3 separate regions of the Homo sapiens genome follow, and regions 1 and 2 are each linked to region 3. The links come from fine-mapping of genetic effects on gene expression. A gene starts in region 3. Each other region holds a variant in brackets. All regions are shown on one strand. Distances are between the middles of the regions.

Region 1 (2,767 bases), 20 kb before region 3:
GCAATGTTACATCAAAAAGTCATTTTAATACATGAAGTCAAGCCAGTCACAAGGATGATGAGTTCCATTCTCCTCAATCTAAGGTTGCTCATTTTATGTCTTGACAAAGACTCTCTCTTTTGACCAAAACTTTAGTCAGGCTCCTCCAATTCCTCTGCTTGACTAGGCCAACATTGGGCTTCCTTTGTTCTTGCAGGATCCAGTTTGAGCAAGAATCCTGTTAAGTTGGCTTAGGGAGAATGCCCCACCCTTGGTATCTGACCGCCCTTGATATCCTATCACACTGGCCTGCCTTCGGCAATAATCCTATCAAGTTGGTATAGCCAGAAACGTCTTACCTTTGATGTTTTTCCTCCTGGTAATAGCCAGAAACCTCTTACCTTTGATGTTTTTCCTCCTGGTAATTTTCCATTCACTGATCCCCACTCTGCTCCTTGGTTATAAATCCCCACTCAGCCTTGTTGAAGTCAGAACTGAGTCCACTCTCTCTCCCTCACTGCAGGATTCCATTGCAGTGGTCCCTATACCTACCACTATGGCCTACCTTGGATAACATCTGCCTTAACATCTTTAACAAGTGTCATGATGAGCTTTTTTTCTTTAACAGTCTTCTCCACTATGCCAGTGTTGGGATATACAATCTTCTCTTCCTTTAAATCCCCCAGTCCCTCCCACTCTCCCTTCCATTTCTACTTTAATTCTCCTACTTAACCTGAAAGCAGAAAACAGCTTGAGCCATTGGAGTCCTAAAAACAATCCCATTAAATAAAAGGCTCATTTTTATCCTATCCTGGAATACTGTGACAAAGAAAATGCCACCACTGTAATCTAGGACGTTTCTTTGAAAAATATTCACAGCTTTCAATTCATTTCAACAATTATTTACTAGGTGCCAGGCACTGGACTAGGACCCAGGCCTTGTGCTAGTACTGCAGATACAATAAGTATGTGTGACATTCTCATCCTTAAAAGTTAGCAATGCCAAAGACTCAGAATGAAGAAAGCTAGGCAATACATGCCCTGTGATGTTTCAGCATGCTCCTAATGACCATGGTATTTTCCCAAGAGTAGATAGTGCATGTAAACAGTGGTAACATCTGTTTACATATGAGAGGTAAACAATTTGGACCTCAGTTAATACACAGATTTTAACTAAAAATTATCATGTTAAGAAAACTTCATCATATTTAGAGATAAAGAATTCGCTTTATTGTATAAATGACAATTTCAACAAGGGTACAAATTAGATATAATTATATAAACTGAATATTTACATCCAATTTACATCCATCATTCTATTAATGAGCACTTTAAATATATAATACAATTCAGAATGATAAAGATATCTACATTAAGGCATCAAAAAGAAAAAAAAAAAGAAAGCAAAGACAGGAAGTCTACTTGCCCACTCAGTAATTAACAAAGATTTATGTAAAATTCCCACAAATTGATCTCAGAATCAGAATCAGCATTTTCTATTAGCAAAAACTGTGAAATACTAGTAATTGTGCTTTATATAAAGCTGTTTGAGGCAATCTGCATAGGAAATATTATCAAGATTCATAATTGCACAAATCTGAAAGGCCTTACATGTCTTATCACATGTTACACTGCT[G/A]TCATAACTCACAAAGAAGTAATTGTAGTATTTTATAAACTGCTTACTGTCTAGGATTGTAAATTGTTTAGCTAATCCATATAAACTTTCCGGCTGCAAATCTTCAATGTCGTAGGTCTGGGTCAGGATATACTCCAGCTTCCAGATGGACTCTCCCTTTAGATTCGCCTCTGTCAGATTCAAGTAATACTGCAACATATCCTGCAGTTAAGAACAGTAACAAAACCTGGTTCACTTTTTGGCACATAAGGCATTGTACAACAAGAAGCGTTCATGTTTAAATTTCTGTGACATTTTAGGCTTGGCGCTGTGGCTCACGCCTGTAATCCTAGCACTTTGAGAGGCTGAGGCAGGTGGGTTACCTGAGGTCAGGAGTTTGAGACCAGCCTGACCAACATGGTGAAACCCCATCTCTACCAAAAATACAAAAAAGAAAAAAAAAATTAGCTGGGCATAGTGGTGGGTGCCTGTAATCCCAGCTACTCAGGAGGCTGGGGCAGAAGAATCGCTTGAACCCGGGAGGCGGAGGTTGCGGTGAGCCGGGATTGCGAGATTGCGCCACTGCACTCCAGCCTGGGTGACAGAGCAAGACTTTGTCTCAATAAATAAATAAGAAAGAAGGAGAGGGAGGGAGGGGGGAGGAGGGGGGGAAGGAAGGAAGGAAGGAAGGAAGGAAGGAAGGGAGGGAGGGAGGGAGGAAGGGAGGCTCAATAAAAAACCTGTATCACTTTTTCAATTTTAAAAATGATGAAAGAACATAATAGCATGTAATCCAAACTATAAAGAGAGGTGAACAAAATAAAAAACCTTCAATTCACACATCCTCAGAGGTAACCATCACTAATGGTTGTGTGTATCAGTGGTGTGCTGAAGGCAGCTCGTACCAGCTCACAAAAGCCGACTGTCAAATTTTTAAGAATGTTGCTAGTCAATCTGTGGCACTTTGGTAGCTTGAAATTGTCCATGATGTGAGTATTTCTGTCATGGAAATTGGCAAACACTACCAATTAAGGCACATTTCCCCTCAGTGAATAGTTGTTAAACATTTGTCAGTACTCCATTGTATGCGTGGTGATCTAGGCTTTAGATCAAAACAAAGATAAATATTTGGAATGTGCATACTTATTTACATTTTTGGCTTTTTCAAAAAAA
Region 2 (2,767 bases), 79 kb after region 3:
GTTTGGGGGAGTCAGATTTAACTGGTCATCTTATTCTTTTTAGTTTCATACTAGAAAGACTTATTCAACATGTATCCTCCATAAAGGTTTGCAGGGAGTTAGTTGGGCTTCTCCCAACCACTTGCAGATTCCCAAAAGGACTAATAAATTTCTCACATGATTGCAGGATATTACATTTGAAAAGATGATATAGTCCAGACTTCCAGATCCAGACACTTAAGTGATGCATCAATATAACATAGCTTAATTTGTGTCAAAGTCTTTCCTAAGTTTAGGCGGTACTCTTTCTTCCATTACCATGATTCCTCCTGCTGCTTTCCGTAACAAAAAACAAAAACAAACCCAGCTATCTACAGGGATAAAAATAAAAAAGAAAATTCACTGTATATGAAAAAGTCTTTCTAAAAATTAAACAGGTTTCCTTTTTAATACATTAGCTTGAGTGGGGTGTGTGTGTCCCTGTGTGGTGTGTGTGTTTGTGTGTGTGTGCTATGTATATTGGGTGTTATCCAGAATACAGTGATATTTTCACTTCTCCTTTAGATGAATATAAGTGGTTATAACCATAGCAAAGCATCCCTACTGTCTACATTTTATATAGTTTAGCTTTTATTTCTAGCTTCAGAGTATTCAGAATTGAGAGGATTTAGCACGGATTTGAAGAAACCCTTCTCATTCTTTTTTTCCCACCTTACCTCAAACCCTATTTATACTCCTTCACTTTCATTTGTTTCACATTATTCTTTCTAACCAGTGACTCAAATATTGTTGGTTCTTATTTTATTGAGGTACTGGAGCCTGCTTAAAGAAGTTAGGGTTCAATTCAAAAAGCATTTATGTAACACCAACTCTGCAAAGCCCCACGCTAGATACTGTGGAATTTGGCACAGTAAGTAAGGTCTTCCCATGCCTTAACTGGCAGTCTGTGAAGGCTGCGTGCTAGCACCTTTACCACGTGAGCAGTGGAGGCAGCGCTTAATTCCAGGATAGAAAATGAGGCCAGGCTTCACAGGGAACACAGCATTTAATGGAACCCCAGAAAATAAGTAAGCAAATTTCAGAGAAGGGCTGCCCTCAGACCACCCATTTCTCATTTAGTTGCTTTTCCAACTACTATTGTACACAAAGTATTCTTAGATTTCAAAGGGGGCACAAATACACTCCAAGTACACAAAATCCCCAGCACTGAATTTGCCCTAGTGGGAAAATAATGTGATTTTGAAGTTCTTGTGTACAATGTGATTTTGAAGTTCTTGTGGTCTGCTTGTACTCTTCCCTACAAAGAGGGAACACGGCCGTCTGTGTTGGGGGTTTACATGCAAGGCCTAAAAAGTCAGTTCCCTTTTCAATGAGATATATGGTTTTAAAATGTCAAATGG[C/T]GGTTTATGACATCAGTAGGAAGAAGAGAAGGGGAAGTTAATTCTTACCAATGTGGTCACAATAGAAATGGCTTCATATCCCTCTGCCTAGTAGAGAGACTGGAACATATCTGCTTAATACAATCAATAAATCAATGTTGAATTAATAGCTGATACCTATCGATTATGAGCTGAAAATGAAGGTCCTTTACATTATTAATATTCATAATAAAGATCAAAAGTAAATAAATAATAAGACTGAAAGTTCAGTTATTCAGTATTAAAATAGATTTTGTTTTGTTAACATCAAAATAGATAGGAGTCAGGCTGTAGACTAATGGCAAATACAATGGTTTTTAGATGTGGGTAGTAAACCTGGATTGGTAGAGCCAGAGCAGTAGTTGCTGCAAAAACTCATACAGTACGACCCTCATCTAGGACATCTGATGGTTATACACATGGACACTTTAAATTTTAAACTTTCATTTCAGAAAGCATTTATAATTAATATATACTTATTTATCTTTCAAAGGGAAAATGCAGTGTGATACCAAATAATAGAACTATTTTTACTAACACACCAAAATTTATAGATGGAAATGAGTATCATCTATCAAAGCAATTACTTTAAGTAGCCACATATTTATTCCACTTCTGAAACTGTTTTTGTGACTCCATCATTGCAACTCATTTTATACTCATACATCAAATAGTGGTAACATGTTCTATTTAAAATATAACGTATTTTATAGTAAACTGTTTTTAATTAAAAAAAAAAACTCCCACTTGATCCCATCTCTTTGTACTAAGAATGACTTCAGCTACTTTTCAAAACCTCCTTAGGTAATTTAGATTTGCACATATTCAAAATAAAACTATTTTAAATGATGATTTGAAAGCAGAGCTTTGGGCACTACTTAACTGCATTAACACACTCTCAAAGTGACTGCCCTTAGTCCTCTTGTTTGTTACACGGTCTATATGGAGCAATGGGAAGTTTGGTCGCCTAAAAGTGAACACTTCTGAAGTTGAATCCTGGACTTTCAACTTCTAGAAAGACATCTAACTTCTTTGTTGATTAGCATTCTACATTTTTAAAAAGTAGGATTTATATTATCTATTTTACTACCCTGGACTCAAATGAACTAATGTTATAAATGTGCTTGGTTAACAACTACACAAATGGAATTTATTTAGATATCAGTCATATAAATTTATAGGCACTATGACAGAGTATCATTATGAATATCAATTATTCTTTTAAGCAACAGTGTTGACGTGGCTCTAGAGACAGCCTCTGATGTTGGACTGTAGGCAGAAAGAGATTAACGCAGCTGGGCGTGATGGCTCATGCCTGTAATCTCAGGGTTTTGGGAGGCTGAGGCAGGCAGATCACCTGAGGTCAGGAG
Region 3 (2,767 bases):
AACATTTTGGGGAAATTTCTTGTAATGACTGACATTTGCCACAGTTCGGAAACCAGATTTACAGTTTTTGCTTCAGACCTGACAGCTGAGTCGTGAGGACTTGGCCTTCAAAGAGAAGATATTTGCCCTAGAGCGCTCCCAAGTCCTGAGAAAGCACAGAGGGAGCGAAAGAGGTTTCAGCACTAGGTGCTGCTACCGAGTCTCAGGGACAACTCTCCCCTAAAAGAAAACAGAACCCCACTTCTCTAATTTTGTTTTTCCTCTTAACAGTGCAATTATTTTTAAAGGGAGTTGAGGAGGTGAGGGCACCTTGATTTTTGGAACTGGAGGCTCGGATGGCATTGTACAATCTCCCACCAAAATGTATCTATTCTGGACCAGTGAGTCTCAAACTTAGCCGAAAGGAATCATGCGGAGGGTGGGTTAAACAGCATACTGTGGAAGCCCAACGCCGGCGTTTCAGATTCAGTAGGTCTGGGATGGGCTGGAAATTTGCAATGCTAACAATTTTAAGTGCGGCGGCTGCTGCCACCGGTCCAGGGCACACTTAAGAGAATCACTACTGTAACGGGCACTGTGTTAAGTGCTGGGAGTGAATAAAATGGGTCCCGCCCGCAGGAAACCTAGTGGACATCCAGGTGAAATGAAGTCCCCGTGAGTTCCACGGTAGACTAAGGGGTGAGTCTACCCGAGGGTGCTTTCGCGCTCTGGCTGGGTGAGTGGCAGAAAAAGCCACTGATCTCGGTCGAGCAAGACAGAAGATAGTGTGAGTCACGCTGAAATTTACTTCCCTGAGCTGGTGGGGAAACTGCAGTCCCCCTCCATTCAGGACCGATTAGGGGCCTCTTGCTGTGCTGGACATCGGACTCCCAGCTTCCTCTTCCCTTGAGTCCCGCAGCTTTTCCTTCCTTCCCCAAGGAACAAAACAACTGAGATGCAGGATGTAAACAAAAGCCAGGCTGGCGAAATCCGGCCGACGCGCCCTTGGAGCGCCCCCACCGGCGAGGGCATTTCCCCCGCCCAGCCCCGGCCTCCCGGCTGGACGCCCTAACGCTGTAGTCCCTTGGTCGCCCTCCCCGCGCCCACCAGCCGTGGTCAACGCCGGACGCGTCAGGGGCCCCGCTAGCCCGAGCCTCTGCCGGGGGCAGCTGCCCCCACGCACTTTCTCCTGCTGTGCGCAGGCGCCGCCGCTCCGCGCTCTTTGCCGGCTGGGAAGAGAAGGGTCGCGGACAACTCACCTATCGCCGGAGGAGGATTCCTGCCGCCTGCGGGCGCCACGGGCAGCCCGAGGCCGGAGCGGCAGTGCCAGGCAGTCAGCAGGCAGCAGACGAGTGCGCGCACCAGCGCCATGGAGGGCCGCGGGGCTGACCTGGAGGTTCGGGCTGTCCCGCAGCTCCACTCGGACCGTCAGGCCTGAGGGTGAGGCGGAGACAGAAGACGGCTGCGGGTGTAGACGTCCGACTGATCACGTGCAAAGGCAGATTCCGCAGCGAGTCAGTTCGCCTGACCTTCAGCTGCTGTTTAGCGATGATCTGTTCTCGTATTTCTTAGCGTCAGTGTTTGGCCTAGGAAGGAATGTACTTGTAGAAGCTCAAATTCCGACTCGTGTATCAGTGGTGCAGTTGATGTCAAACACTGACATACTGGTGCTTGGGGATAGAGAAAGACATTCAATTTAGTAAAAGCCAGAAGGAGGGAGAACAAGATCTCTCAAATCCGTGTGTAAAAAGGAAAAAGCAGGGAGTTTTTATTCTGCTAGAGAATAAGAGAGGGGGATTTTCAAAGAATCCAGGGGAAAAGTCTGTTTCTTCAGTCTCAGATAACACCTTTGAGCAATTAGACGTCCAGGCATCCGCAGCTGGTTGCAAAGCCCTTGGAGGTATTCATCCCTTCTGCAAACATTTTTGTGACCCTGAAGTTAACCTCTTTGTTCTTGACGAGGAAGCAGTACCTCAGCAGTTTATAATTATATTGTGGAAACAAGGAGAATATTGGGCAAAAAGCGAGTGGTTAAAATGTGCAAGCAAGCAGGAGCCTGATCAGAATTTTCATTATTTCAGTCACTAAAAAATGCTGGGGTGCTGAAATCTCAACGATCCCGGTTCCATTCTTGGGCCAACCTACCCCAGCTTTAATGGGTAGGGCTCCTCAGTAGAGGTGATGCAGAGAGCCCTGAAGTATCATGATTTGAAGGAAATCAGCAAAAGTTATGGATACTGCAGTGGATCTCGAATTGAAGTCTCTGAACTGGGAACATTAGCACCACCTGGGAACTCTAGTTAGAAATGCAAATTCCCAGGCACCACCCTAGACCTGTTGAGTCAGAAACCTGCTGGAGCCCAGCAGTTTGTGTTTTCACAAGCATTTCAGGTCATGTTAAAGTGATTGTGATGTTTGAAAACCAATGCTCAAAGATACGACGTTTTGTTTTTTGTTTTTTTTAAACTGCCGGGAAGAGAAGGGTCTTAGAATTAGAACATGTTCTGAAATCATGCTTTATGCATTCCAGAGATGCATGGAAATCATAAGTAGAGGTGGTTGATTTGATGCTTCCACGGAACTTTTTTGAATATACTTCTGGCAAAGAAGTAAGTCTATACAAAGAAGTAAGCAAAGATAAGTCTGGCAAAGAAGTAAGTCTATACAAAGAAGTAAGCAAAGATAAGTCTGGCAAAGAAGCCAGAATCCCGAAACTGTGCTGGATCCTGTATTCTGTGTTCCTTCTCTCACCGTTTATGAGGATGCTGATCTCTTGGAGATGACAAGC

What was found. PIP is the estimated chance that this variant, and not a neighbour inherited with it, causes the effect.
Region 1: its variant is fine-mapped to the expression of SMPDL3A in monocytes after LPS (Fairfax 2014, PIP 0.95). The same link has a PIP of 0.9 or more in transverse colon.
Region 2: its variant is fine-mapped to the expression of SMPDL3A in whole blood (INTERVAL, PIP above 0.99). The same link has a PIP of 0.9 or more in blood mononuclear cells.

What each region holds. Positions count from the first base shown.
Region 1 is chr6:122,808,140-122,810,906 of GRCh38, reverse strand. It overlaps SMPDL3A (sphingomyelin phosphodiesterase acid like 3A), which reads right to left. Exons shown (of 8, transcript NM_006714.5): 8 at 1,187-1,816. The coding sequence ends at 1,499. Among named protein-coding and RNA genes, the nearest start is that of SMPDL3A, 20 kb to the right of the region's middle. The variant G/A (reference allele first, on the strand shown) is at 1,616.
Region 2 is chr6:122,708,856-122,711,622 of GRCh38, reverse strand. All of the region lies in intron 3 of PKIB (cAMP-dependent protein kinase inhibitor beta), which reads right to left. Among named protein-coding and RNA genes, the nearest start is that of FABP7, 69 kb to the left of the region's middle. The variant C/T (reference allele first, on the strand shown) is at 1,380.
Region 3 is chr6:122,787,930-122,790,696 of GRCh38, reverse strand. SMPDL3A (sphingomyelin phosphodiesterase acid like 3A) reads right to left here and starts at 1,439. Exons shown (of 8, transcript NM_006714.5): 1 at 1,239-1,439. The coding sequence starts at 1,350. RefSeq lists silencers at 1-13, 1,119-1,413 and enhancers at 628-1,127, 1,128-1,629.